Homo sapiens: one gene and its partners. The protein of the gene in region 2 purifies or fractionates together with the protein of the main gene of each other region. This does not show direct contact. Each region holds a gene or a part of one and is shown on either strand. Other genes may lie near its edges.

Region 1 (6,892 bases), on a different chromosome or scaffold from region 2:
CTGCTTTAAAACAACAAATCAGCTGGGCATGTGGCTCATGTCTGTAATCTTTTGGAAGGCCGAGGCAAGAGGACAGCTTGAGTTCAGGAGTTGGAGACCAGCTGAGGCCAACATAGTGAGACCTCATCTCTCAAAAAAAAAAAAAATAGCCGGGCATGGTGGTGCGTGCCTATGGTCTGTGGTCCCAGCTACTCAAGAGGCTGAGGCAAGAGGATAGTTTGAGCCTGGGAAGTCAAGGCTGCAGTGAGCCATGATGGTGCCATTGCACTCCAGCCTGGACAAACAGCAAGACTTTGTCTCAAAAAATAGTAATAATAATTAATTAAAAAGATAAAGATTTAAAACCAGTAAATCAGCAACCTTGCCCTTGACATTATATCCTGTATCTAGTTATCTAAAGATGAAAAGGACTTAATATTGAATAAAAATTAACATTTAGCCATCTCAGCACTAATTTACAGCCCTGGAACCTGTGTGTAACAAGGAGGCAGTTTAGTGCATTAAGAGCAGACTTTGGAGTCAACTAGACCTGGGATTGAGCTCAAAGTTCATTACTTTCCACCTTGGACAAGTAAAAAGAGATTATATTACTTCCTCATGGGGTCACTGTAATTGTATCAAGAAGTGCCACTATGTCTTTTCCAGCAGTCTCAGAATTTCAATTTAAGCCTCAAAACTGAAGACAATAGGTAAAAAGCACTTCTAAATTCTCAAGCAAAAGGGCAAACAGATGTCATCTGAGCTCAAGCTCAAGCTAAGGAAGGCCAGACTAGACCTGTGACTTCTCCGTATCCAGGCTACATAAGAAAGACAGGAGGCCGGGCGCGGTGGCTCACGCCTGTAATCCCAGCACTTTGGGAGGCCGAGGCGGGCGGATCACGAGGTCAGGAGATCGAGACCATCCCGGCTAAAACGGTGAAACCCCGTCTCTACTAAAAATACAAAAAATTAGCCGGGCGTAGTGGCGGGCGCCTGTAGTCCCAGCTACTTGGGAGGCTGAGGCAGGAGAATGGCGTGAACCCGGGAGGCGGAGCTTGCAGTGAGCCGAGATCCCGCCACTGCACTCCAGCCTGGGTGACAGAGCGAGACTCCGTCTCAAAAAAAAAAAAAAAAAAAAAAAAAGGAGATGTTTGAGACAGAGGAAAGTTTGGAGTTTTCAGCCTAGTAGGAGCATTTCCCTTCCAGACTACAAGGGGCCAACTCTGCCCCCCCAAGACAGGTGAGGAACATTCCAAGAGAATCAGTCACAAGATTGGGAGTGACTCAAGAAGGAGATACTCAGTGTGTCACTCCCCTGCTAAAGACATCCTGAGCTGCAGAAACTCACAGGCCTACCCCAGTGCATCAGAAAAGGTGTGCTACAAGGGTGAAAGCTCTTGGGTAAATCTGAAATGTGTCCCTCGGAGTTTCCAGATGCAGATGAATACAGAGGTAGAGCAAGGAAAAAGGGCAGCAGTGGAAATATCATTCCCATTGTGTGTTTCCTTTGGGCCAAGCAGATGCCACAAGAGACTGCTGGGTAATCAAATAGGAGATCCCAGTAGAAAGAAAATGTGGGGTGATGTGCTAAAAGCAAGAGCTAGGAGGTGGGCCAGCATCACAGAAAGCCCGTCACCTATGTCAGGAAAATCTCTGTGGGACTTCCCAACAACTGACAAACATACCCTGAGAAAGCACACATGTGGATATCATGCCCAGAGGACACCAATGGATGGATCAGAGCAGCATCAGTCACCTGAATGGCTTGCTCTCTCTCCTCCTCCAACACACTGGAGAAAGAAGGAAACTCAGAGACAGCCAGGTGAGAAGAGGAGGAGGATACAGAAAAGCAGAACAATGGCTCACACCTCCTTTATGCACTGCAGGGGAGGGATTAGAAACTGGAAGTGACACTGAAGGTTTAAATTGGATTGGACTTTTAAATGCTTGGAAGTGAATCATACTGACCCAAATGTGATTTATTTTTATAACCAAGTGACAAGAAAACTATAGAATTTGCAGGAAACGTCACTGAAGAGGGAAAGAAAAAATCATGTTTGAAGGCAGTGGAAGGAGAAAATAAAACCATTTCCTGTTTGTTCTCCCATCAAATTTAGCCCACTGAGTATGCCAGTTATGTAAAGATCAAATGAAAGTATACATGCAAAGAGCTTGGCATATTATCCAGCCTTTAACAAAAAGCCCATTAGAGCTCAATGTTGGCTATGGTCATTGACCTCACGGGTGGATCACCTGAGGTCAGGAGTTCGAGACCAGCCTGGCCAACATGGCGAAACCCCGTCTCTACTAAAAATACAAAAATTAGCACGGCGTGGTAGCGGGCGCCTGTAATCCCAGCTACCAGGAGGCTGAGACACAAAAATCGCTTGAACCCAGGAGGCGGAGGTTGCAGTGACTGGAGATAGCACCACTGCACTCTGGCCTGGGCTACAGAGCGAGACACAGTCTCAAATCAATCAATCGATCAATCAATCAATCACATGGAAACGGTGCAATGTCTTAGCTGACAATATCGGGCTGCTGGAGGTTTACACACACCTGCTTTCCTCCTTTTGTGTGTAAGCTGTGAGAAACACACCTCACAGACGAACTCCCAACCACCACCCAGCAGGGGCGCAGCCGGAAAGACCCAGCTAGCAAAGACCTCGCCTGACCCAGCACAGCGCCCCCTCCTGGGCGCGATCCTACGTCGCCCAGAAGTCGAGGGGAGGAACCGAGGGAACGCGCAAGAAAGGACGCAGCGTCAGCGCGGACGTTCTCACGCACGGCACACGGAAGCAAGCACGGCGTGAGTTCGTCCCTCTGCGCACGCCCCGGTTTCCTCGCGTCCGCGGCTGCTCACCCGAACTCCAGATGACCTCCAGGGAGTTGGAAACTGCCAGCTCCAACCGAGCCTTTCCTCTTCCCCAGGAGGACGCAACGCGGATGCTTGCAGCTGGTCACCACGACTCCGACTCCGACTCCTGGCCGCCGCCCGCGCGGCTGTGCGCTGGCCGTCATAGCGCGCGGGAGGACGCGCCTGGCAGCGGCAGGAAGTGACGCGCTCACTACCCCGTCCCGCGGCCGCAGCCAATCTCTCCCCGCGAGGGCGGAGGCGCCGAAATCAAAGCGAGAGCGCCTCGGCCTCTCCAGCTGTCCGCGGTGCGTAATGCGTCGCGGAGGGCTATCAGGTTGGGGAATGCCGTGTTTCCTTCCGAAGGGCAGCGTGCCTTAGAGTTTCGCTGTAACTAAAGTCGCTTACAGTTGTGCTTTGAATATTCATCACCCGTCAGCCTATCCACTCCCAGATTCCTGCAAACCATGCATTTACATGTACAAGCCGCCTGCTCTTACCAACCTCGGCACCACTGCACATTCTTTTTTCCGTGAATGACCTCGCCCACCATGGTGCACCCATTTGCCCTGTAGCTCAAATCAGCGTGGTACCAGGATAAGGATAGGTCGTTTAGAAACATCCCATTATAAACAACTATGCTTAAGGTATATTCATAAGTCATGGGAGGAAATAAAGGCTAATTGATAAATCATGCTGGGAAGAGTTAGTTACAAACAGTGGAAAACAGACATTTTCAGATGTTTGCACACCATGCACCATGCAAAATACAAACCAGCTGAATCATAAAAACAAATGACTAGTTACTGGGAGGGTTTTCTCTCTTTCTCATTATTTTTACTTCTACCAAAGTAATGTGCACATACTGGTAATTTTATTTTATTTTAATTTTCACCAAGCTAGCTAATTTTCTTTCTTTTTTTTTTTTTTGTGGAGGTGGGCTGTCGGTCTTTTGTCGAGGCTGATCTCCAACTCCTGTCCTCAAGCAGTCCTTCCACTTGGGCCTACCAGAGTGCTGGGATAACAGGCGTGAACCACTGCGCCTGACCTATAGCTATAATTTTAAGAAGTAAAATGGTGCAAAAACCGCAACAAGAGCAACCTGACCCTCCTACTTTCAGAAACAATCACTTTTAACTCTTTGAACTGTATTTCTGATATTTGCCTACTTATTTCTAAGTAATATGCTTACTCTCCATGTTATACTAAATGGGTATTAAGCTTTTCACAGCATCTCTCCTCACTATCAACATTCACATTCATTACAAAGGTACTTACAATATCTTCTCAAAAAATGGTAGTATATAAAAAGGATAATATATTGAACAATGAGATTAATCCCAGAAATACTAGGTTGGCTTAATATTTGAAAAGCCAATGTAATTCAGCATATTAACAGAGGGAGAAAGGAAATACATATAATCATCTCAATAGATGCAGAAAAAAATTAATAAAATCCGATACTCAGTTGTGATTAAAAAAACTCCACAAAATCTCTGAGCAAACTAGAAATAAAATGAAACTTTAACATGATATATGGCATCTACAAAGACCTACAGCTAACATCATATTTAATGACTGTTTTGAGCTGAATTGTGTCCCCTCAAAATTCCTATGTCGAAGTCCTATCCCCCAGTACCTCAGCATTTGGAGACAGGATCAAGTTAAAATGAAGCCACTAGGGTAGGCCCTATTCTAATGTTATGACTGGTGTCCTCGCAAGAAGTAGAGATTAGAACCCAGACTGTGTTCTATTGGAAGACTGTATGATGACACAGGGAGAAGGCAGCCGTCTACAAGCCAAGGAGAGCAGCCTCAGAAGAAACCAAGTCTGCTGACACCTTGATCTTAGAATTCTAGCCTCCAGTATTGTGAGAAAATTAATTTATGTTATTTAAGCCACACAATCTTTGATACTTTGTTATGGCTTGATACTTTGTTATGGCAGCCATAGCACTAGCCTAGCCTTATCTTGGTGAAAGACAAGATTTGGGAGGAGCTAGGGTATCCACTCTGAGCACGTTTAGTCATCATGTTGCTGGAGATTCTAGTTAGCACAACTCATAAAATTTAAAAATCAATAAAACGTAGTTAAATTGGAAAGGAATAAGTAACCGTCTTTTTTTTTTAAAACAATCCTGAGGAATTAATTAAAAAGCCATTAGAAGAAATAAGTTTAGCAAGGTCGTAGGATTCAAGGTTAATATACACAATTGATTATATTTCTATATATTAGCAATGAACAATTGAAAAGTAAATTTTTAAAACAATACCATTTATAATACCATAAAAAACATAAAATACTTAGAAATATATTTAGCAAAAGATATGGAACACTTGTATACAGAAGACTATAAAACTGAACCAAAAATAAAATTCTAAGCACCTCCACCCCCAGCCATCTGAATGGACTCCTTCCTCTTGGCCAGAGCACTCCAAAGTTAACCTGAAAAACTGGTTGAAGCCATGACAGAGCAGGGGTCAGATATGCCTCATTATGCCACCTTTCTTTTGGAATTCAGGAAAAGCCAACTAGCATTTAACATTAACACAGACCTTAAGTCTGATAAGAAACATTTACAATCTAGTCTCTCTGAAGCCTGCTACCTGGAGGCTTCAGCTGCATGATAAAATTTTGGTCTCCACAACGTCTTATCTTAACCCAGACATTCCTTTCTATTGATAATAACTGTTTCAACCAATTGCCAATCAGAAAAATTTAAATCTACCTATAACCTGGAACCCCTGCCCCACTTCAAGTTGTCTCGCCTTTCTGGACCAAACCAATGGTCAATCTGTATCTTAAGTGTATTTGATTGAAGTCTCATGTCTCCCTAAAATGTATAAAACCAAGCTGCTCCCCAACCACCTTGGGCATATGTTGTCAGGGTCTCCCAAGGGCTGTGTCACAGGCCATGGTCACTCATATTTGGCTCAGAATACATCCCTTCAACTATTTTACAGAGTTTGACTTCTTCCTTTTTTTTAATTTCAAGTTTTTGGTTACATGGATTCGTTCTTTAGCTGTGATTTCTGAAATTTTAGTGCACCCATCACCTGAGTAGTGTACACTATATGTAGTCTTTTATTCCTCACTCCCCTCCAAACTTTCCCCTCCGAGTCCCCAAAGCCCACTGTATCACTCTTATGCCTTTGCATCCTCATAGCTTAACTCCCACTTGTGAGAACTTACAATATTTGCTTTTCCATTCCTGAGTTACTTCACTTAGAATAATGGCCTCCAGCTCCATCCAAGTTGCTGCATAAGACATTATCTTGTTCCTTTTTATGGCTGAGTAGTATTTTATGGTGTATATATACCACATTTTCTTTATCCATTCGTTGGTTGATGGACACTTAGGTTGGTTCCATGTCTTTGCAATTGCAAATTGTGCTGCTATATGTGCATGTGTTTTTTTTTTTTTTTTTTTTTTTGGAGACAGTCTCACTCTGTTGCCCAGGCTGGAGTGCAGTGGCGCAATCTCGGCTCACTGCAAGCTCCGCCTCCCACGTTCACGCCATTCTCCTGCCTCAGTCTCCTGAGTAGCTGGGACTACAGGCGCCCACCACTGCGCCTGGCTAATTTTTTTGTATTTTTAGTAGAGACGGGGTTTCACCATGGTCTTGATCTCCTGACCTCGTGATCTGCCTGCCTCGGCCTCCCAAAGTGCTGGGATTACAGGCGTGAGCCACCGAGCCCGGCCGCATGTGTGTTTTTTATGTAATGACTTATTTTCCTTTGGGTAGATATTCCGTAGTGGGATTGCTGGATTGAATGGTAGTTCTACTTTTAGTTCCTTAAGGAATGTCTATACTGTTTTCCATAGTGGTTGTACTAGTTTACATTTCCAGTAGCAGTGTAAAAGTGTTCCCTTTTCCTCACATCCAGGCCAACATCTATTGTTTTTTTACTTTTTTGTAATGGCCATTCTTACAGGCGTAAGGTGGTATCTCACGTTTTAATTTGCGTTTCCCTGATGCTTGTGATGTTGAACATTTTTTCATGTTTGTTGGCTGTTTGTATATTTTCTTTTGATAAATGTTTATTCATGTCCTTTG
Region 2 (7,221 bases):
AAGTCCTCATTGATGTAGGTGAAGCTGGTGACAGGGACAGCCTTCCTAGGGGGCACAGCTGGGCACAGCGGCTCCTGTGCCTCATAGCCACCCCGTAGCAGGCCATCCTGCTGGCGGAAGAAGGTGGGCCCAGGAGGGCCGTGGTGGCGGGGAGGAGCTGGCCCCCCGGGACAGGGCCGGCCTGAGATAAGGCTGCTCACACTACCCATGACTGGAGCTTGTGGGGCAGTGGCAGCTTCAGGAGCAGGCTCCAGTGGCACTGGCAGAGTCTGCACAATGGCCATGGTGGCAGAGGCTCAGGCCTGGCCAGCGGCCTCGCAGGCGACCTGTAAGCAGGGCAGTGGTGTCAGAGTCCCTCCACCTTGAGACCCCTCCTGACCCACTGATCCTGACCAAACACCTCCTTGACATCAGTAACAAGCCCTGATCCCCACCAAGACTCCCCCTTCAAGTGCTGGAATGAATCTCAATTCCCCCTGGGCCCCAAACCACACTGCCCAATGCTGGTCTGAACAGGGCTGAGGAGTGAATTCACTCAGCAGAGATGCTGAGAGGCATGGGAGGCCTGGATGATTACCGCAGGGCCACCTGGCAGCAAAGACCCAGGCCCAAGCCCAATCCTGCATCCTCCACAGAGGCCAGGACTCAGGTGAGGGAGGGGCCTTCTCTACCAGCTTGAAGCACAGGTCCCTGGTCCTCTCAGCCAGGTGGCCTCATTACAGGGCAGTTTGGGCAGAGGTACCTCAGGGGTGCAATCAGCACCTCAGATGGTAATTAGGGAACAAAGAGCCAAGGCCAGGCAGTGCCCTGCCTCCCTCTGCTGGGCCTCAGTTTCTCTCAGACAGAAAGGCGGCTAAACTGCCTCTCTGTCGATCTGGCTAAATAAGAAACCCGCGGCTCTTAGGGAGTCCACAGGTGTCCTTTGGGGTCTCCTGCCTCCCAGAGGTGGATGCAGGCTCATACCAGTTTCCATGACAACTCCTAGCCTCTGCACACCCAATCGGTGAGGCCTGAAGGCCTGAAGGAGCCTCCACAGGCTCTGCCCCACTGCCAACCTCTCTGAAACCCTACAGCTTCAGAAGGTCCCCAAACTAACCCTGAGGGGAGGAAGGTAGATGCCCTGCCTTCACCTCTGGAGGCTGCTCCAAAACCTCACTTCCACAGAGCCCAGGCAAGAGGGCTCCACCTCCCCAGGCTCTGCTCCTTCCTGGAAGCAGCTGCAAGCCTCCACCCGGAACCCCCTCCCTAGTCCCAGTCCCGAGGCCGCTGATGACCAGGACTTAGGCATCTGCTGAAGTCATCATGCAGAGCGGGGCCAAGAAGTGGACAGAGAATTGCACTGGGAGTAGGAGTGTGTGCATTTAGTTATTTGTTGTGTGACTACATGCACAGGAGCATGAAAATGAACACGTGTGTATGAAAATGTGTGTGAAAACATCATGTGAGTCTATGCATGTTTGATATATCAGTTCATTCACATACATATGAGTTCATGTGTGAATTCACATGTGTATATCTTAGAAGAGTATGTGGATCAGGGGTCATTAGAAAGCCTGTGAAAGTTATAAATGTGGATCTAACAAGTGAATTTGTGGTGTGTGGGAGAGACGGTGCCTGGACAGACTTGTCAGTAAGTTCATGAGTTTATGTGTGAGCTCCTGTGTTTGTGTGTGACTAGGAAGGTGAGTGGTGCAGTGGAGCCTGTGAACGTGGGCACGCAGGTATGAGAGTGGTGGGAGCCTGGGTGGCTTGAGGGCCCATTGGTGGGGGGAGCCTGTTTCCTTCTCTCTTCGGCGTGTGGGGAGAGGTGGGACATTATCTAACTCCTTTGCCTGATCTGTTCCCCTTCTTTCTCGCATGCCCTCCATTAAATCCACCGCCCTCCTTCCCACCCAAGTCAAAAGACACTGCGAACCAGGAAGAGGTGTCCACGCTGGGGCAGGAGCTGCGGGGAGCTGGGGGAGGGGTAGGCCAGGAGCAGGGAGTGACCACAGGCCCCTCTGTAGGGCTGGGGCTCAGACCACCCCACACACCCCAGCCCCCAGCAGAGCAGATAGAGAACCCCCTCCCCTCCCCTCTCTGGGCCCACTCCAGGGTGTGGAGTGAACAGTGGGGAAGGGACTTCTTAGGGGGCCAAGGGGGCTGGCACCTCTGTTGCATTTCCCCACTTCAGCGAGCACGGAGAAAGTGAAAATTGAAGGAAGGAGACAGGCTCAGAGAAAGACAGGGACCCAAAAGAGACAAAGACTCGGAGAGGCCCGAGGGTCAGGCCGACAAGGGGACAGCCAGCGGGACCCAGTGAGCCAGGGCCCCCCAACCCCACGGAGCCGAGGGCCCATAAGTCCAAAGTGCCACAGAGCCGGGCCCTGAGAGCCACACATCCAGGGAGCCAGAGCCAGGAGTCTGGAAAGCCAGGCCCAGCCAGGCCGGCTCCCGCTCTTGGAGCCCGAAAGAGAAGGAGGGGCAAGTGGAGGCTCCATTTTGAGAAATGCGTTTGTGGCTGTGGGAGATGGGAACCCCTCATTCTCCCCAGCACTCCCTGAGCAATCACTCTGGCCCAGGAGCACCCCCCTTTTAGTGGGCTGAGGAGAGCAGAGGGCTGGAGCTGGTTCAGGGCCGGAGACGGATCTGAAGAGTTGGGGAAAGTCTCCCTCCCACCCAAACTCCAAGGACCAGTCAAGCGGGGTCAAGTCTGCGATCACGAGTTCCCATTCTGCGGCGGGAAGCCAGGAGCCCCTGACCCATTCTCCAGAGTCCAGCCCCCCTTCCAGAAAGTGGGGGCGACTGGGGAACGCCGTCCCCCCGGCTGGATTCCACCGCGCATAAGTTGGGGGCTCCCCAGGCCGCCTCCCAGACCCGGCCCCCCTCACCTCCGCCGCGCTGCTCCATGCTCAGCCCCAGGCCGCCCCCAGCGCTCCACAGGCGCGCCGCCCGGCCCCGGCTCCGGCTCCGGCCCCGGCCCCGGCCCCGGCCCTGGCCCGCGCGCCGCCACTCGGAGCTGCCCGGCCCAGCCCCGCCTCCGCCTCCGCGGCGCCCCCGGCCCTGGCCAGCCCCCGCCCGGTGCGAGTGGGCGGCACCGCGCAGGGGAGGGTCCGAGGGGCGTCTCCGCCCCGGGGCGCGGACACGCGCAAGCACCCGCGTCACGCGAATCCGCCGGGGCGCACGTAGGGGCTGCTCGGCGGCAGTCGGGAGCCCTCCCTCCGACGCCCTGTGACTGCGTGTCTGGGGGCTCGGTTCGGCTCGACGCGGCGGCGGCGGTGGTCACCCTCAACCCCAGCCGGGGCCCCGGGGCCAGCGGCAGCTGGTCATTGTTCCAGCACAAAGGGCCACGGCGCGGCGGCGGCCGCCCCTCCCCCTCCGCTTCTCCAGGCGAAGCTTCCCTGACACGCTCTCAGCCTCAGAGTCCCAAGCGAGAGGCCGATGGCCGGCCGTCCCCCACTCTCCGGTGCCGGGACCCCGCGCCCTAGCCCGAGTAGGAGGCCGAGGCTCGATCCGCGCCTGCCCCACGGCGGGTTGGAGGCGGCAACCTGGGCTTCGCGGAGGCGACGCCACCTGGCGGCCGGCTCGGAGAACACACCCAGCCGCCCCCAACACGCGGGCCCTGCCCCACTCCCCGGCACGGTGCCCTTTTCCCCGCGAACCCAGGCCGGCCTCTGGCGCGACCGCGTGCTCCCCAGCCTCCCCTCGGGATCACTTGCTAAGAGAGAGGTCATTTATCGGAGAGGAGCGGCCCCTGGCTCCCCAACAATCACTGGGGCGAACCGGTGCAAGCCTACAGCCCAAACCTACACCAGCCTCACGGCAGACAATATTCCACTTCCTCAGGGTCAAGTAGTCTCACCTTCTCGCACACAATACAGTCTCCCTAACACCCACAAGACCTTTCCCACATGCAGCCGCAGTCTCAGCCGTCACGTGGGTCCGCGTTCCTTCTTTCCATAATCTTCCAGTCCACCTCACACACAGACACGGTGTCACAGGCCTGTTGGGCACAGGCTTCCACAACAATCCGCAGTCCTTCGCACCCAGTCACAGTCTCAAGTGCACTTAGTCTCCTAACCATCTTTCACGCATTGACAGCCTCTATTCACAGTCACTCACACAGACAACTTCTTACACGCCGTGCTTCACAAATATTCTACCGCACAGCCTTTCCCCTAGGGGTCTCGGTGACCCGGTCAGGTCAGCTGATGCCTGCATCCCTGGGCAAAGGCAGCCTTTCTCCCCTAACCACCCCCTCCCCCGCAGGGCCAAGGCCTGCCGGAGCTCGCCCGGGCCCCAGGAAGGAGCATCCCCCCCTTCCAGGCCACAGCCCTGGCCGGCTCTCAGCTCTATTTTTAGCTCCATGGACAGGGTTGTTTTTCTTTCTTTTTCCCTGGAAAGGGAAACACAGCCCAGCCACCCTGACTCACCCCAGACCCTCAGCCTCACAAGAACAGACTGAGCCCCTCTCCCCAGCAGAGCCCCCTCCTCTGGCCTTGCCCTGATCCCTGCCTCCTGGGGCACCGAGAGCCTCCTCCTCTTTCTGGCAGCCTGCCCAGCTCAGGCGGCAGCTGGGCTCAGCGTGTGTGTAGGGGTAGGGGGTGGGGCGAGGAGGAGGCATCGGGCTACTGCCCACTCCCTCATTCCCTGGGGGGAGGGGCTCGTCCTCCTTTTTCTAGGGGGGCAGGCCCACTCTGGTATTGAGGGAGCGTTTACACTCATGCATTTTCTGGGGGGAGGAGACTCCGACTCCCGCAAGGAGTGGAGGTGAGGGTAGGAAGGGGACCCGCAGGCGCTCAGGCAGCTGCTCTCTGGGCTGGCGGTAACAGGCGGGGGCAGCTGTCCACTGCCATCAAGGGCCTGTCTCCGAAACCTTCAGGGATGCAGACACCAAGAATGTGCTGGGGAGAAGGACGTCCAGGAGCCCGAGTTAACCCCAGCCCTGCCCAGCAGCCGGGCCCTCCTGCTCCGCCCCGGCTCCAGGGGGCGCTGTGCTCCGGTTCCCGGGAGAGGGCTTATCCCCGCTCCAGGCGGAGAATGGAACGCCGTCCGGCCTGGGACCAAGCAAACGCGCCCCGGACTAGGGTGGATTTCCGCCCCGTGGTTGGGTTGGGGGCACAGGCCACTGGTCTGCGGAGCTGTCACGTGCTCGGCGTCTGTTTACGTCTTGGTCTTCACCTGCGGGAGGCCAGGAAGCAGGAACCTCCGGGTGCGTCCCACCCGGCCCGCCCCCGTCGGTAGTCACAGGGCTGCCCCTTTCCCGCACCCAATACGCGACCGCAGAGTGCCCTGCCCGCTGTGGGTCCGCGCGGGCCGGCTGGCGCTGTCCCTGGGAGTGCAAGGGTGGCCAACTGGGCGCGTCCTTTCCGAGTGCATGTGTGTTCGCGTGTCCCAAGTGCGGGCGTGGGTCTGTGCACGCGTGTGTGGGGCCCGTCGGCGTGCGTTTTCGTGTCACTTCCCTGTTCGGACTCTTCGCGGGGACCCCACCAAGTGCGGACCCCCCTCCTCACCCCAACCCCTAGCTTCCCTAGAAGCGGAAAGTTCGTTCAGGAGCGGGGATGAGCGGGAGGCGGGAGTTCCTGCACCTCCGCCGCCCCACCACTCACCCAGCGCCACCTGCGCCTCGGCTCCAGTTCCGGCCCCGCTCCTGCTCCAGCGCGCCCACCTCCTCGCCGCGACAACGCCGGCTCCCTAGCCGGCTCCGAACTCTAGGTTCCGAACTCTGGGCTCCCGGCTCCCAGCTCCCGGCGCCCGCCTGGCCCGACCTGGTGGAGCGGGGCGGGGCGGGGCGGCTCAGGCCGCGCCCCCCACCCAGGGAGGGGAGTGGTCTGCCCCGCACTCCACCAGCAGCCGACCCAGTGCCCAGCCTAAGAGTGACTCGACGGTGGCCGAGGCTGCCCCTCTGGCCTCTGACTTCACAGCTTACTGGATTTGGTTTTTGACCTGGGGAAGGGGGCGAGCATCACGTGACCGAGAATTCGGCTACCTGGCTGCCTTAAACTAAGCTTAAACTAAGAGCTTGACTCTGCCACCCTCCCTGCTCCGATGGGAGCCCAACCCGGTCCACTCTTGGCCCAATCCCCAAATACAGGGACAACCCCTGGGAAGCAGACAAAGAAGGCTCAAGTTTCACCAGAGCAGCTCCCACCTACCCCTACCACGCACACACCTCAGCGTGGGGCTGCCCAGGCAGAACCAGCACAGCCCCCTCCCTAGAGTAGGTATCTGCCCAGGTGAGCAGGCCTGCGGGTTCTGACCCCCACGGGGCATGGCTGGGCTTCTCGAAGACTCATAAAGTCCCACCCACAGGCACAAACAGGAAGTTGGCCTGTATTGCAGGGAGGCCCCAAGGGCTCCCTCCCACCATGGCACTCAAGGCAGCATGTAGGAAGGTCTACAGGTATCTGGCCCATATGGGCTACAGGAGACCTCGGTGAGTTGTTTTTTGAGACGGAGTCTCGCTCTGTCGCCCAGAATGCAGCGGCACGATCTTGGCTCATTGCAACTTCCGCTTCCCAGGTTCAAGCGATTCTCCTGCCTCAGCCTCCAGAGCAGCTGGGACTAGAGGCGCGCACCACCACGCCCGGCTAATTTTTGTATTTTTAGTAGAGACGGGGTTTCACCATATTGGCCAGGCTGGTCTCAAACTCCTGACCTCGTGATCCACCCGCCTCGGCCTCCAAAAGTGCTGGGATTACAGGCGTAAGCCACCGCACCCGGCCGAGTTGTTTCTTCTTAAACCCATCCACAGCAGAGAGGAAGCTGCCAGAGGACCAAAGCTGTCCCCTCATGGCCAAGTGTGACATACATTATCAATTAGAGGACAAGGCTGTAGATCCAACTGGACCTGGCTTAGCCAGGCCTTTCCTGAGATCTCAGGGAAATTTTTTTTTTTTCCTCCCAATCCACCGAACCTGTGAGTCAGGGAGATTCTTAACATCCAGTTGGGTGTAGACAGACCAGTCCTATCCCAGGGAATCCGCACAGGCCCTAGGGACCCCCCACTGCTTTCTAGAATCCAGGGATCTGAACAGACTGGGTGGAATCATGATATGGGGTATTTAAGGCAGGTATGGAATAGAACGTGTTTGTGCAGCGGGTAGGGCTGGGGGGAGTATTAGCTTCCCCTCCCCCTCATCATTCTGGTTTGTGCTGTGTGGGGGTGTCTGCTAGAAGGGTGGGGCAAGACAAACAGCCAAGTCTGTATCTATCCCTCTATCCCCAGTTCACAGAGACCTC
Region 3 (6,927 bases), on a different chromosome or scaffold from region 2:
GAAAGTAAACAGAATTACCATATAACCCAGCAATTACACATCTAGGTATACATCCAAGAAAATTGAAAGCATATATACCATACAAAAACTTGTAAATGAGTATCCACAACATTATTTATTATGGCCAAAAAGTAGAAACAACCCAAATGCCCATCAGTTGAAGATTGGATAAACAAAATGTGGCATAGCCATATAACAAAATAATATTCTGCCATAAAAGGAATGAAATATTGATACATGGTATAATATGAATAAACCCTGAAAGCATTATGTTAAGTGAAAGACACTAAAGGCCACATATTATGATTCTATTCACATGCAATGTCCAAAATAGGCAAATCCATAGAGACATAAAGTAAATTAGTGGTTGTCAAATATGGGGAAGGGGGAATAGTAACAAAAGCTACCAGGTACAAGGTTCTTTTTAGGGTAATAACGTTCTTGGATTAGTGCCGACATTTGCATAATTTTGTGAATATATTAAAACTACTGAATTGCATACTTTAAAAAAGTGAATTCTATGGCATATGAATTATATCTCAAAGAAAACTATTATAAAAATTTAAGTCTCTGCTTTTTTTTCTTTTGAGACAAAGTCTGGCTGTCACCCAGGATGGAATGCAGTGGTCCAATCATGGCTCACTTCTCTGCTTGCTACTTTTTATTAGTAAATATTCTACTTTCCTCAAGAGGTTGCTCATGTTGCTTGTAACAGCTTTAAAAGATCTTTGAAGTTAGCTACTATACAGATGAATGGTATTTTTAGTAAAGTAAAACTACTATAACAGAGAAACTTTCTAAAAATCGGATTAGTTTGGTACAATTTCATTTTTTCAAAAGAAATGTCATTAATACCAAGTTCATTTTTAGAGAGTGGAAAAGCTTCAACAAGTCCTTATAAAAATACATTTTTTAAAAAGGTCAAAATGCAATACTTTGTTTTCTTAATTATTGGACATTTCATTTTCAGATATATCATTAGTAGATTACCTGTTTAAAATGTCATTAAATGCCTAGCAATGAATTAAAACCCAAGTAGATGCAACTTTGTGACCTCTACTTACAACTTTCTACATTCTGCATTCTGTTGTCAGATTCCTAGTCCATCACTAGCTCCTAATCTCTTACATCAATTATTCCATTCAATTCTTATTCACAGGGGCTAAAATGTTTGGTAAATGCAATCAATTCATTTTTCTAATGCTGGGGAAAAACTAGAGTGGGCCCAATTTTTAAGGTTAAATTTAGTCCAGAATGTTTGAATAAATATTCAACAAAACGATTTCCTGGAATTTGGAACATAAAAACAGCCTATAGAGTTGTGAAATGCTTTCTAGGTCCTTGGGGAATTTTTTCACGTATTTAGTCATGGGGCAAAGTATTACGTATAAAAGCTTCCTGGTCCTAGAACAAAGACGTATTTTACTGCTCAAAGCTAAAGGAATTAGTATTGTTAAACTAAAATAGCATACCAATGAAACCAGCTAGGTATTGGCATAACTTAACCAAGGTATGTAACCAAAGATAAATTGTACCTTATTATGCATTCTTCCTTGGGAGGAAAAATTCTCACATTAATAAGATTTAGCCAGCCAAAACAGAAAAAGTATATAGATATATGTGTGTCTGTGTATGTAGGTATGTATAAGGATTAGGATTTTGAGTGGCAATTTAAATTTGACGGTTTGCCAAGCTATGCTGGGATACATAGTGGGCATGCTTGACACAAGCAAAACGTGAAGTAAGAGACGACCTGTCAAACAGCTGCTATCTAGTTACTCCCTCGGCAGCACTCCCAACTTCTCCCGCGATGTCTGTGTGTAAGAGAAAGATGTCAAAGCACCAAGAAAACCACGGGGGCTGTCAGAGCAACAGCCAAGTCCAAACCGTGCATCCCAGGGTGAAATCCCACCCGTACCCTCAAGAGCTGGTCAGACTGCGGCTCTTTTCTAATATGAGTCTACCTAAAATAGAAAAATAAACACAACCACAGACCCTGGCCAACCCTCTCTCTCCTCCCCTTTGTGACTCTCCCAAACGCTGGAGGGATGTTAACCTCTGGCAGGCCCGTGGAAGCCAAGCCCCGCGACCTGAGGAGGCGTCCAGGAGCCTCGGCGCAGCCCTGGGGCCTCGAGCCCGTGTCCTCCACCCACCCGACAGGGCCGGTCACCGGTCACACAAAGGAGCCAGTCGCGGGCGCTGGACGCGGGACTCGCCCGAGAGCAGGGAGCCACATCTGGTTCCTGCACGCTGGCAAAAGAGACCCGCTGGAAAATAAGGACTAACGCCCAAACCTGTTGCACAATTCGGGTCCCTTTCACCCAGAAATGAACAAGGGCGCTCAGGAACGGAAAAGCGCGCGGCCCGGTCTCTGCGGGCCGCGGCCGCACCCGGCAGACGGCGCGGAGGCAAAGGCGGCCCGCAGGGCTCCCACCTCCGGCGCTTTGTCTGTGGCGGCAAGGCGGTGGGGGCGGTCGGGGCGTTGGGAGCAGAGGCGGTGGCGGGGCGGGGGCGCCCCTCCTTCACTGCGTAGCCCCTCCGCCCCGCGGCCCGCGCAGGGGAAGAAAGCCGGGCCCGCTACCGCCGCCGCCGCCGACTGCACCGGCCCAAGCCGGCCACCCGGCCGCGGGGCCTGCGCGCTTCTCCCGCCCGGGCCGAGCGGCGGCCACACTCACCTGGCTGGCGCTGACGCTAGCGGCCGGCGGCTCCGGGGCGTTGGGGAAGACAGGGGAACGCTAGCGAGGTGCGGGCGGAGGCGGAGGGCGCGGCGGGAGGAAGGCGGGCTGGGGGCGGAGCGGGCCCGGGCGGCGGCGGCAGCAGCGGCGACGGCTGCGGCTCCAGTCACTCGCGGCAAATCGCGTCCCGGCCCCTCCGTGCGTCAGGCGGGGAGCGGGGGTGCGGGTGGCCCGGCGACCTCTCGGCACCCGCGGCCCGAGCCGCGTCCGCGCGACCCCGCGCGCGCCCGGGTGACGGCGGTACAGCAACCCGCCCGGCGCGGGAAGGAGGAAGGAGGCGGGGCGGGGCGGGGCGTCCAACCGGGCCTGGGGCTGAGGGCTGGGCGCGAGTGGGACTCTGGCGCTCCGGACGGACCCTGCCGTCCCCACCCCTAGCCGAGGCCCAGGCTCCCCAGGCGGGAGGCAGTCTTGGAGAGTGGAAGGGTACCTAGATCTGGAGTCAGAAGTCTGGGCTTAAGAGAGGGTCCGTTACTTGACACCCTGGCAGGTCATTTATTTCCTCTGGCCTCATGCTGGAGTTCGAAGGTTCGAGTACAAAGTCTCCAAGAGCTGCTCCCAAGTACTCACTGCCAAGCGGTGGTGTGGCTGAAGGATGAAGGCAGATGAAAGGGAAAGGGTTGCGGTGAGGAAGGGCTGGATTCAGGGCATTTGTTTTGCTTTGAGGATCTTTCCACTGGACAGTCCAAAATTAATCCACAATGGGGCTCCCTGATAATGGCTACTTCCCCATTTTTACCAACCTAGTTATTTTTCTCCAAGTATACTGACTTAAGAGTCCTTGTTTTCATTTTATTGCGCAAATCATTTGTATGTCATTTCCTGAATTCAGTTCAAAAGAGTCATCAGCAAATTCACACCAGATCAGAGCAGCTGTGTGGTCCCAATTTCAAGACTTCCATATTATTCACTCAGCCACTCACTTCAGTATCACCTAATTCCGTTGATAAAATCTTCCTATTCCAACAACTAAGCAACCAAATTTCTCTCCACTAAAGTTTTCTGACTTAAAATCCCGTGGATTAATTCTTCCTCTTAATTCTGTGAATATCAGTCTGTCTCCATGACTTCCACCTCTTTGCCACTCTAGGTCAAGCCTTTAACTTCACTGCTGCTTCAGTTCCATATAACTGCCAGAGAGAATGCTCCAAAAAGACAGAGCTAAGCATGAAACGTCCCTCTTTAAAATCATTCAAAGTCTCTCCACCTGGTTGAATCAGGTTCAAACTCATTACCATGGTTTACAAAGCCATTTAAAATCTGATCTATTGACCTCCTTGGCTCCAGCTTCAACTCCTAATATATCTACGTATCACACAAATTCAACAGACTTTGTCTTTGTGCCCTTGTAGTTTTCCCCCACCTGAAATCCATCCCTCATTTAACCAGTTGAACTCCTATTGTCCTTCAAGATAATGAAGATAATGCATCCCTTCCTCCTTGGAATCTTCCCTGACATCATCTCCTTTCACCACATCTGTATCCTTACCCCACACATTTACAATGAATTAAATACTCTTTTTCTCTCTGCTTTCATAAAATCGTCTATCTACAGTATTCCCTATGATAATCTTTAATACTTGCTTTTTTCCTGTTGCTTTGCTTGGTGGCCTTTTCTTCCTAGACTGTGTGTTCCTTAAAAGGACAGGGATTTTGTCTAGTTCATTTTTTTTGCTCCCCAGAACATAGCACAGTGCTCAGCACAAAAAAGGTTCTCTTTAACTGTTTGCTGAAGCGTTGAAATAATTTTCCATCCCAACAAATAGATGTTGAGCATCTACTCAACGAAAAGAAAATACAGGGAAGTCCACAGTCCCAGCCTTTTTTAGCCTTCCGTGGTATTCTGTTTTTCCCTTCTCTACTATGTGGCATTCTCTGCTTATCATTTTAAACTCTCTCCAACTACCATTCACATTCTTTGCTTATCCTAGTAAAACAAGAGCATGCCAAGCAATCCATTATAATAATTCACAAAATATCCCTGCCCTTCCTCTTTACATACTTCTGGTTCCACATTGTATTACCTAGGTGTTAGATAAGAGGTAACTGCTATAATGGAAAAAACATTAAACTATAAATTCAGAGAATGAAATTTGGATGCTACGTTTTCCAATAACTACTGAATGAACTTAGCTCAATCACTTATAGTCATGAGGCTTTACTTCTGGAGTTTCTTTGGCTCTATGATTAGCATTTGTTTTTAATATTTTATTATAAAAGTAAATATATATATGCTAGATCCTTGCAATGTAGCTATCCAGCATATGTTTGAACTCCAAGTGATAGGAAACCATTCATGACCTCACAACAGTTTTCATTTTTAAACAGTCCTGCTAGTTTCTATGTTCAACTAAAATCTGTCTCTGTATACATTTGGTAAGTAGCTACAGTATTGGTAGAAACACCACTGGACTTAGACTCCAAAGAAGTTGGTCAAATCCTGGGCTTATAACTTCCTAATTGTGTGACCTTAGAAAAGCACAAAACTGCTCCAAGTATGAGTTTGCTCCATTCTAAAAGGAGAAAATGATAATAATAGCACCTTAAATCATTATTGTAAATATGAATGCAATGCGTATGAATGTGTCCAGTGAGTCTGAACCTAGTACTAACATTGTTTAATACAGAACAGCATGGTTCCCCCCCATATGCAGCCTTGTAAACATTTGAAGTCAGCAGTCACAATGTGTGCCTTCTCCACCCACTTTTTATTCACATCTCATTCGTCTCCATACGCATTTATCTAAACATTCTCCAGTGTCTCTTAAAATGTGGCACCTAGAACTGAATACAATATTCCAAGTATAAAGGAAGGAGTAGAGGAGTACAATTTTCTGCATCCTAATGAAGATATTTCAAAATTCAGTTTGATATCACATTATTTTTCTACCACCCCATACCGTTCATAAATATCATGTTATTGCCAACTAAAAACAAGCAAAAATTACCCCCAAATCTTTTTTAAGTCTTTAACATATATACAGCTATAAAACCATATCTTCTCCAACCTGTATTTTGCAATTTGTTTTTGGAAACTGTGCAGATCTTTGCATTTATTCCTCTTAAATATCACTTTGGAAGTTATGTACAGAAGCCCCTGCCAACTAGAAATCAATGTGAAGTGAGAGTAACATTTTAAAAACATTAAAGGGTGGAGAAAAAGAATCCAAAGCCACCTCAAGCAACAAGTTTCTAAATTCTTAATTTCTCCTCTACTACTTCTTTTAGATTTATTAATTATTATTATTATTATTATTAATTATTTTAGAGGGAGTCTCACCGTGTCGCCCAGACTGGAGTGCAGCAGCACGATCTTGGCCCACTGCAACATCCACCTCCCAGGTTCAAACCATCCTCCTGCCTCAGCCTCCCTACTAGTTGGGACTACAAGCATGTGCCACCTTGCCCAGCTAATTTTTGTATTTTTAGTAGAGACGGGGTTTCACCATGTTGGCCAGGCTGGTATCGAACTCTTGACCTTGTGATCCACCCACCTCAGCCTCTCAAAGTGCTAGGATTACAGGCATGAACAACCGCACCTGGCCTAATTTATTTATTTTTAAGAGATGAGGTCTTCCTGTATTGACAAGGCTGGTCTCAAACACGAGGCCTCAAGCGATTCTCCCACCTTAGCCTCCCGAGTAGCTGGAACTACGGGAGTGAGCTACCATACCAGCAAGCTTTTTTTTTTTAAGCCACATTTGAATGTCATCTAAAATTAGATAACTTCCCATACTCATCTTGTTTTATTTATATCATAAATTAATAGTGAAAATGCCTTCTATGAGTGTGTTCCATACATTGTTTGCTTGAACCACTGAAGAATTCTCAGTCTGTCTCAAACTGGTATTGTTACTGCCAATTTCCTGAAACTCAGCTCGGTTAGGTAATTTGCTACACAGTCATCCTGCACCAAAGTTGGCTTGGAGAAACTGCCCCTCCTCCAGCCCTTGCTGAAGGGTGGCCCCAGGCAATATACTCTTTTGTGTTGTCTGTGTAATCCCTGAATCACTGTTGATTGCCCCTGGGTGGGCACTGACCTAGACACAGGCAAGTCATACTCATTCAAAAAATGACCTGGGGGGAAAAAAATCAGTCCAAAAAAAAAAAAACCCTGATCCAATCAGGCAATCAATTGAGGAAGCTGAAATCCAGAAGGACTCACAGAGGGTGTTCATGGGCAGGAAGGGCCCTG
Region 4 (7,807 bases), on a different chromosome or scaffold from region 2:
CTGATACGGACCAATAACAATGATAATACAACGGTAAGGACTGATAAGAGGCACATAGTCACATTATTAATCATGACAAACTTTCCATCAAATTCCACTCTCATACCATTTCAGCTCTCCTCATGCTCCCATTTCACAGCTCAAACAGATTTTTAAAAAAAGAAAAACAGTCATTTATCTAAAAATTCAGATTGCAACTTAAGATAGAACATATATACATCACAACTCAACCAAGATCCCCCCGAAGTCTACAAAACTGCTAATCTCAAGCAATCTTCAATCTATGACTTCAATAAACTCACTAGAAAGTGTTTTTTAAAAGTTCCTAAACAATGAAGATGGGGGCACTATACCAAAATTACACACATACTTCAAAGCAAAAGCAAAGCAAATGCAGAAGCCTGAAAATACTAGTGTAAGGACAGAGACAAAAGAAGAGTTAAATGAATCTCAGTACAAAGTATCAGAGAGGTGCTTTGCAATTATTACCTGGAGTTGAAGTCAACCTTGCCATAGACTCCTCCAATGAAATCACAACTATCACTGACTGATACTTCAGATTTTAAAAGTTCACTGTACCAGAATTGCAATTTCAAACTCGAGGAGCAGAAGCAGGAACTGCAGAGAAGCTAACAACAGCAACACCTACTGACTGTCTCAAGCCACTCACCAAACTTGTTCACTCAGTCAACTAGAAAAATCAAATGACAGTCAACTTCAAGAGTCCTTTACTTAAGCATTAATAAGAAAATTAGTTGTCAGAGACATAAAGCCATTCATCCCCCAAATCTCTTATTTTGCCTCTAACCATTTATGTGGAAACAATCACTCATCATTTTAAATGCACTGTTAATTGTTAATGCTTTAGCATAATTGATTCCATGGGAAAAATGTTTTAATATTAATATTGTAGTTAATAACTGGGATGTCATCTAATAGTTGGACACATCGGTGGCCATAATAAATTAGCTGAGACCTACTGTTATTACCACTGTTCCATATTATCCTCTTTTTTAAATCCTGGTAAAGGTAGCTTAATTGCAGCTTTCAAAAAACGAAGAGAAAAATGACAGTCGTTAAATCAGGATTATATAGAAAACTAATATTATTACTAAACTGGCTGCAGAATTCAGTATGATCTAACCTTGCACGTTTCCAAAAGATTCAGTCAGAGAATCTTTGCCTTGGACGGATACTCCATAGGAGAAAACAGGAGAAAGTTGACACTTAACTCCCACAGAGTACCAGCATAAAGACAATGGCTTTAAGAGTCTGACTCAGAGTTTCAACATGAAAGGTTTGCTTTATAGAGGAAACGCCAATCCCAGTCCATCCAGATAGACCTGGAACCTGATGAAAGTCGACACCTTTATTCTGAAATTTGCATCACATCGCTGGCTCCAGTTTAGAAACATGATCGTTTCACAGGTAGTATGCATTTCAGCGAATGCTGCCTCTAAACTACCCGTCAGGAAAAATAAAATCTATAAGGTAATCGTAGTCTAGGAGCCATCAATCCCCAAATGCTTCTCTTAGAAAACGAATGCCAACAATTTAGCTAAACATCTTCCTTGGAAGTGAGCCATTTCCCATGTCTCTCTGTTCTCCAAACCGCGATGAAATTTCAACCTGCCCAACACGATTACTGGTCCACCTAGAAATGCCGTGGAGCGATTTAAGAGCCTCGGAAATTTCCTTTAAGGTCAGGAGAGAAGCTGGTAACAGATGGGGCGAAGGAGGAAAAGTTCTTTTTGCGGCACCCTCACGCCTTCCCAGCCCTTTCGCGGTTTACTCGCTCCCCGGAAAGCAGGTTAGAGCATCCCAAAATTTCATGTCCCCAAGACCCCCAAAGGGGAAATTAACCACCCTCGGGCACCGAGCTGTTCGTCTCCATTTCCCACAACTCAACCAACTCGGCCTGCCTACTCCAGCTCAGGCTGCAAAGCGCTCACCCAGGTGACTGGAGGGGAAGGGTCGCCAGGTGGCGACCAGCTCAGCGGGGTGGACGCAACCGCCCGGACCGGGACGCGGGTCTCCTGGCCTCCCGCAGAGACGCCTGCCCAGTAGTTGTGCAGATTCGGGTTCTGGGGTGCGTGCGCGCGCGCCGGGCGCGGTGAAGCCGGACTCGCCCCCGCCGGGCTAAGCTACCAGCAAGCCACCAAATCGAAAATCAAACTTTAACCGGCCTCCTGGGGTCCTGCTCCGGGCCCTGGACCCCAACCCCGGCCAGAAACAGGGCAGGGGGCTGTCAGCCGTCCTGCACCCCCGCTCCCCCCAGGACCCGGGCGCGGGGACCACTTACCGCTCGGCCCGGCCTCCCGGTGCCGCCGCGCGTCCCGGGCGCGTCCGCCGCGCGCTCTCCCTGGGGAGAAAGAGAAACCGTGTAGACGGCCGGCGCGCGCTCACTCGCCGCCTCCTCTGCGGAGAGCGGCGAGGCCGGCCCGAGGCGGGCGCCGAGCGCGGAGCGGAGGGGGGCCCGAGGGAGGCGGGGGTGGAATCAGCCCAATTCCCGAGGCTGGCTCCGAGGGGGACCCGGAATACAGGCTGGCGGGGGGCCGGCGGGGGCCGAGCTCCCGGAGGAGGGGAAGGCGGAGGTGGCCCCGTCCTTGGGCATCAACTATTGTCTAGGCGCCCGGGCCCCCGCTCGCGCCGTCCCCGAGGCTCAGCGCCCCCATCCCGCCCGCCAGCAGAAAGAACTGAGGGGGCGGCCAGTACGGGAAGCAAGTGCGGGGGTCCGGGCTCCGAAGGTCCAAGGTGGGCGCGAGGTTGCCGGGGGGGGGATGAGGAGGTGCGTACCGCATGGGGGAGGGGACAGGTAAGTGCGGACGGGGGCGGGAAGGCCCCAACGACCGGTGGGGGAGGAAATGGGGAGGGAGCCACAGAGGCGGGAGGGAATGGAGTGGCTGCGGGGGCGGCCTCTGGGGCCCAGACCTGGCCCTCCCCGGGGACCCTCCAGCCGGGGACTCGGCGCTGCACTGACTTTTCGCTCACTCGCTCACGCACGCACTGAACTCGCTCACAAAGTTGCCGGCAGTGGCGGCGCCTCACTCGCCCTTCCCCTCCCCGCCCCGCCTCCCGCCCCATTCCTTCCCCTCCTTCACTCCTCCCTCTCCCCCAAGTCTCGGGTGAGATCACCACGGAGCGGCTTAGCGCGGCGCACAAGTCTCGCGAGAGAAGCGGCGGCTGGGCCCTGCAGGCGGAGGAAGTGGAAAAAGTCGCGGGAGGGTAGGGGACCGCGGAACTTCTGGTTGCTATGACGACGGCAAAGCCCTGGATTCCTGTCTCCTGCGGAGAGCAGAGGCTGCAAACGTGGGTGCAGTTTTCAACCTGCCCGGCGCACTGGCGGTGGGGAAAGCTAGGGGTGGTTGCGGAAGGATAATTTTTAAGCCGATTCAAGAGGGCATCTCGAGAGGACCACAGTCATGATATCTGGCCAAATTTGGCAAATGAGACTAATGTATTAAGAGGTTCTGGGACAGGTTTCTGCCTTTCTAGGCAGCACATATCTGCACCCCAAATTTCTACTATATATTCAGTTTTTCGGCCTTCTCTTTCAATCTAATTCCTCCATCCCCACACTCCCCATGCTGCCTCCCTCCTCCTCTTCTCAACTCGCAAACACACGCAGACTGGGCTCCTTCAGGAACTGGCTCATTCATCTCTGTATTCTCAGCGCCTCTATAGGCTTGGTCCATACTACATATTGGCCACTTTTTTGACAAGTTGAACGCAACAGTCCATGCCTGTCCTCAGTACTTGCCTTTGGCCCTAACCTAGAGAGTTCAGTCAAGTTTGGACTCTATCAAGCTACCCTCCCATTTCTGTTAACACCTTGTCTTTTTCAATGGTAATAATCTCTGCTTTCTCCATATTTTTCTCGTAAAAACCCTATTCACCATGGTGAGGGGAACTTTTTTTTTAATCATTAGGCATCCGCAGACGCCTTTATACGTACTCCAAAATGCTAGTAAGGATGAAGATGAACTCTCCTCAGCCCGTGTCTTTTAACTGTAGAAACTTTTCTGAGGTGAGGGTTATTATATACTCACTGCCTAAGTAAAATGGATATTATGAATAGAAGTTAAACTTTAGATTTCAAAATGAATGAGTAAAAATAGATACCATTGTATGTGGATTATATCTCAATTTTTAAAATTCCTATCCATGAACATGGGGAAACCATTATTTAACTCAGTCCCACAGAACTAGAAACCTAAAGCATAACCTAAGCATATGAGGACTAGGCAGTCAAAACTTGTAAGTCACTTGCAAGTTTAAATCCTGTCAATGAAAGTTTGTGTATTAGAAACCTAAGTGATACTAGACAAAGTCAGCAAACTAGGGTTTACGTTTTTCTGTGCCACTAATAATTGAGTCTCCTTGAGAAGTTATTTAATCTCTCTGATTCTTCATCTGTGGGGGGTACCCCACATGTTAGGTTATTACAGCTTTAAAATTCTATAGCTGGCCGGCATGGTGGCTCACATGCATAATCCCAGCACTTTGGGAGGCCCAGGTGGGAAGACTGCTTGAAGCCAGGAGTTTGAGACTATCCTGGGCAACATAGAGAGACCCTGTATCTACAAAAATAAAAAATATTAGCTAGGTATACTGACATGCACCTGTAGTCCCAGCTATTCAGGAGGCCGAGGCTTGAGAATCACTTGAGCCCAGGAGTTAAAGGCTGCAGTGACCTCTGATCACACCACTGCACTCCAGCCTGAGCAACACAGTGAGATCCTGCATCTAAATATATATACACATATGTATGTGTGAGTATATATATATATATATATATATATATAATTTAATATAAGAGCTCTTAGACCTATAAAATTTTCCAATAAATAACAAATCTTCCTTTTACAGCAAATGATAAAAAAAGTTTCATCTTATAGTAGGTCAGTTTCACAAAGAGTAGCTATATGTTGACAATTTTCTTTAAATGTTGACAATTTTATTTTAAAATTTATCTTGTCCCAACTACAAAAACAACAAAAATATTGACCATGTTACAGTAATTTCAAAGGTAATCTATAGTTCATGATTTGCTTTTACACTAACTCAAAGCAGATTCCTTGTTATTTAATAAATACTCTAATTAAAACCAAAGACCCAAACTAAATACATCCATACTCCCAAAATAACTATAAGGAAAGAGGGAGGGAGGGAGGAAGGAAAGGAAGGAAGGAAGGAAGGAAGGAAGGAAGGAAGGAAGGAAGGAAGGAGCGAAGACTAGATCTGTGGAAGGAAGGAAGGGAGGGAGGGAGGAGGGGAAGGACGGAGGGCCTCAGATTCATTTACTGGTGTGTTTAATATCACATTTTCACAAAGAAACACAATGGAACATCACCATCAGTCCTGTGAATCTGTTTTAAGGAACCATTTTTCATAACATTGCAAAATATTATAAATCAGTTGTTGCTCATTTGTTCTGGCTTAGCTTTTAACATAATTTTGCCCTTAAAAGATGGCTGCCAATCTACATCCACCAACGCAGTACAATTTCAGGACCATCTGTTTTATGACTCCCAGATAGCCATTTGAAATAATTGACCCAAATGCTAGCCAAATCTATTAACATTCTTCAGTGCTTCATATAAGGCTCAAGAGATGGGTGTTGGCCTCAAATTACAAAAATAACCTCCCTAATCTTCAGACATAGTAAAATAGTAGAAATTGTCCCAGGGATCTAAAACTGCTTTTTCAAGGCCCTGGGCTACTATTTATCCCTCACTGATGGCAGAACTTTCATCCGTGTTTCTAAAGGAGATAAAAAGTGAAAGCTACCAAAGCCTAGTTTCCAACTGCACATTCTCTAGGTCAGTCACTCCTGCTGTATCTTCCTGACCTTCCTAGGTTTCAAAATAGCAGATGTCAGGCAGCAGAAGAGGGAAATGCGGAATGGAGAGTTTGCCAAGAGCACAGACTAGATCTCAGTCCACTTCCTGTCCACTGTCTTGGCTCCTCTACCCATCTCTGCTCAACCCCTTGCCTTTGCCCTCCAACACAAAGGATATGTAACCTTTCTAGTGATAAGAACATCTAGTCATTTGCTATGTTGTTCCCTCCCTATTTGCTTCTTATTTCGTTAAAACCCAGGTGAATTCATTTCCCTCTGGTTATTTACCTCTACTCAACAAAACACCCTAATGTATAGTGTATACCAAATATAGAATGAATTTTGACACAGAGGCCTACCATACAAATTTTATGTATTTTTTAATATTATAAACACTGACTCACATTTGCATGTTTTACATTTAAAATCTGATTTAACTGGCCTATTCAGAACTCCAGTAGCTGTACATCTGCAGGGCATTATTCTAAGTGATATTTAGAAAGATTACTCTAAATCATTACAAAGGTCCAAAGTGCCCTCAAAATTATTCAGGATTAAATGATATCCCATGTTGTTTTAATTTTAGGGTGTTATTATTTTAGCCTTATTGATGTAACTCTGTTTACATGAATACTGGATTCCTTAGCAAATGCCCCTTCTCTCATTTACATAGTAGTATTCATTACAAGTTTAAAACACCAACTACTTTATAACGTTGTTATAAATAATTATAACGTTCTGTTAATCAATTAACAGCAAAACTACTATACTTCCCTGTGCTCTTCCCTCCTCTTTAAAGGACTGTTTCACATCTTCTCCTCCTTAATCAAACCTCTGCCTAGTACTTCTAGCTAATGGCCTTGCTCCCTCTTTTGTTGGTAAAATAGAAATAATCAGAAGAGAACTGAACACACATACCCTCTCTATCACTCTTGTCTACCAACCTGCCTGCATCTGTCTGCATATACTCCTCTGTCCTTCCTGTCATTTATGAACTCTTGGTGCTCTTAGCCAAGATTAGCCTCGGTCTGTGCATTAGTGCCATCACCTCTAACTCAGGGACATTGATTCAGCAACTGTCCCCACTCTCTCTTGAATCAGCAAATTTTCCTTCTCTACTGCTTCACTTCTAAGGGCTTACAAGCATACTGGAATATCTGCCGTGGTAAAAACTAAAATGCTTCCTAAATTTTATGTCTCCCCCTGCTTCACTTTATAACTGGAATCTTCAAAAGGCTCTTCCATGCTTGGTGTCTTCAATTCCTATCCTTCCCTTCCCATGAATCCACTCTGAGCAGCCTTTCACCCCCACTACTCCACAGCAACAGGTCTTCTCAGGGGCATCAGTGACTGCCTTATTGCTAAATCTGGTGCTCAACTTCCAAGCTCACCTGGCTGGAGCCCTCAGCAGCAGGGAAGAGGTCAACCATGCTGGTTCTTGAAATGTTTTCTTCCCTTGGCTTCTGAGCCAAGAGTCTATCCTAGTTCTTATCCTACCTTTCTGGTCTTTTTAGTCTTGAACCTCTCAACATAGGAGGCTCCAGGACTCAGACTTTGGACATCTCTTTATGGTCTCTTTTCACTCTGTGGTGAGCTCACCAGTCTGATAGTTTTAAATACCATCTATACATTAAATACTCCCAAACTTACACCTCCAGGCTAGTCATCTCCCCCATCTCCAGATTTGTACATCCATCTGCTACTCAACATCTGCAATTGATTATGTACTAGGTATTTCAAATTTCACATGTTTAAAACTGATGAGCTCCAAATATTCCCCCAAAAACCAGTGCCCTCCTGAACTCCAGATATCCCTCTCAAAACCGGTTCCCTCTGGGAGGCTGAGGTAGGTGGATCATGAGGTCAAGAGATCGAGTCCATCCTGGCCAACATGGTGAAACCCCATCTTTACTAAAAATACAAAAATTAGCTAGGCATGGTGGCGCGTGCCTGTAGTCGCAGCTA

Evidence for each region.
Region 1: the proteins of LZTS2 (region 2) and NUDT15 purify together in Homo sapiens (affinity purification with mass spectrometry; 3 studies listed by BioGRID and IntAct, with this or other methods). This does not show direct contact.
Region 3: the proteins of LZTS2 (region 2) and SESTD1 purify together in Homo sapiens (affinity purification with mass spectrometry; 3 studies listed by BioGRID and IntAct, with this or other methods). This does not show direct contact.
Region 4: the proteins of LZTS2 (region 2) and SIPA1L1 purify together in Homo sapiens (affinity purification with mass spectrometry; 4 studies listed by BioGRID and IntAct, with this or other methods). This does not show direct contact.

What each region holds. Positions count from the first base shown.
Region 1 is NC_000013.11:48,033,855-48,040,746, reverse strand, and holds the start of NUDT15 (nucleotide triphosphate diphosphatase NUDT15), read right to left. Parts: upstream 3,022-6,892; 5' UTR 3,001-3,021; coding exon 2,843-3,000; exon of another isoform or gene 2,755-2,842; intron 1-2,754. UniProt on the Homo sapiens protein: May catalyze the hydrolysis of nucleoside triphosphates including dGTP, dTTP, dCTP, their oxidized forms like 8-oxo-dGTP and the prodrug thiopurine derivatives 6-thio-dGTP and 6-thio-GTP.
Region 2 is NC_000010.11:100,995,602-101,002,822, reverse strand, and holds the start of LZTS2 (leucine zipper putative tumor suppressor 2), read right to left. Parts: upstream 3,016-7,221; 5' UTR 2,871-3,015; intron 327-2,870; 5' UTR 285-326; coding exon 1-284. UniProt on the Homo sapiens protein: Negative regulator of katanin-mediated microtubule severing and release from the centrosome. Required for central spindle formation and the completion of cytokinesis.
Region 3 is NC_000002.12:179,261,824-179,268,750, forward strand, and holds the start of SESTD1 (SEC14 domain and spectrin repeat-containing protein 1), read right to left. Parts: upstream 3,010-6,927; 5' UTR 2,676-3,009; intron 1-2,675. UniProt on the Homo sapiens protein: May act as the primary docking protein directing membrane turnover and assembly of the transient receptor potential channels TRPC4 and TRPC5.
Region 4 is NC_000014.9:71,315,677-71,323,483, reverse strand, and holds the start of SIPA1L1 (signal-induced proliferation-associated 1-like protein 1), read right to left. Parts: upstream 3,009-7,807; 5' UTR 2,981-3,008; exon of another isoform or gene 2,363-2,980; 5' UTR 2,303-2,362; exon of another isoform or gene 1,953-2,302; intron 1,811-1,952; exon of another isoform or gene 1,636-1,810; intron 550-1,635; exon of another isoform or gene 1-549.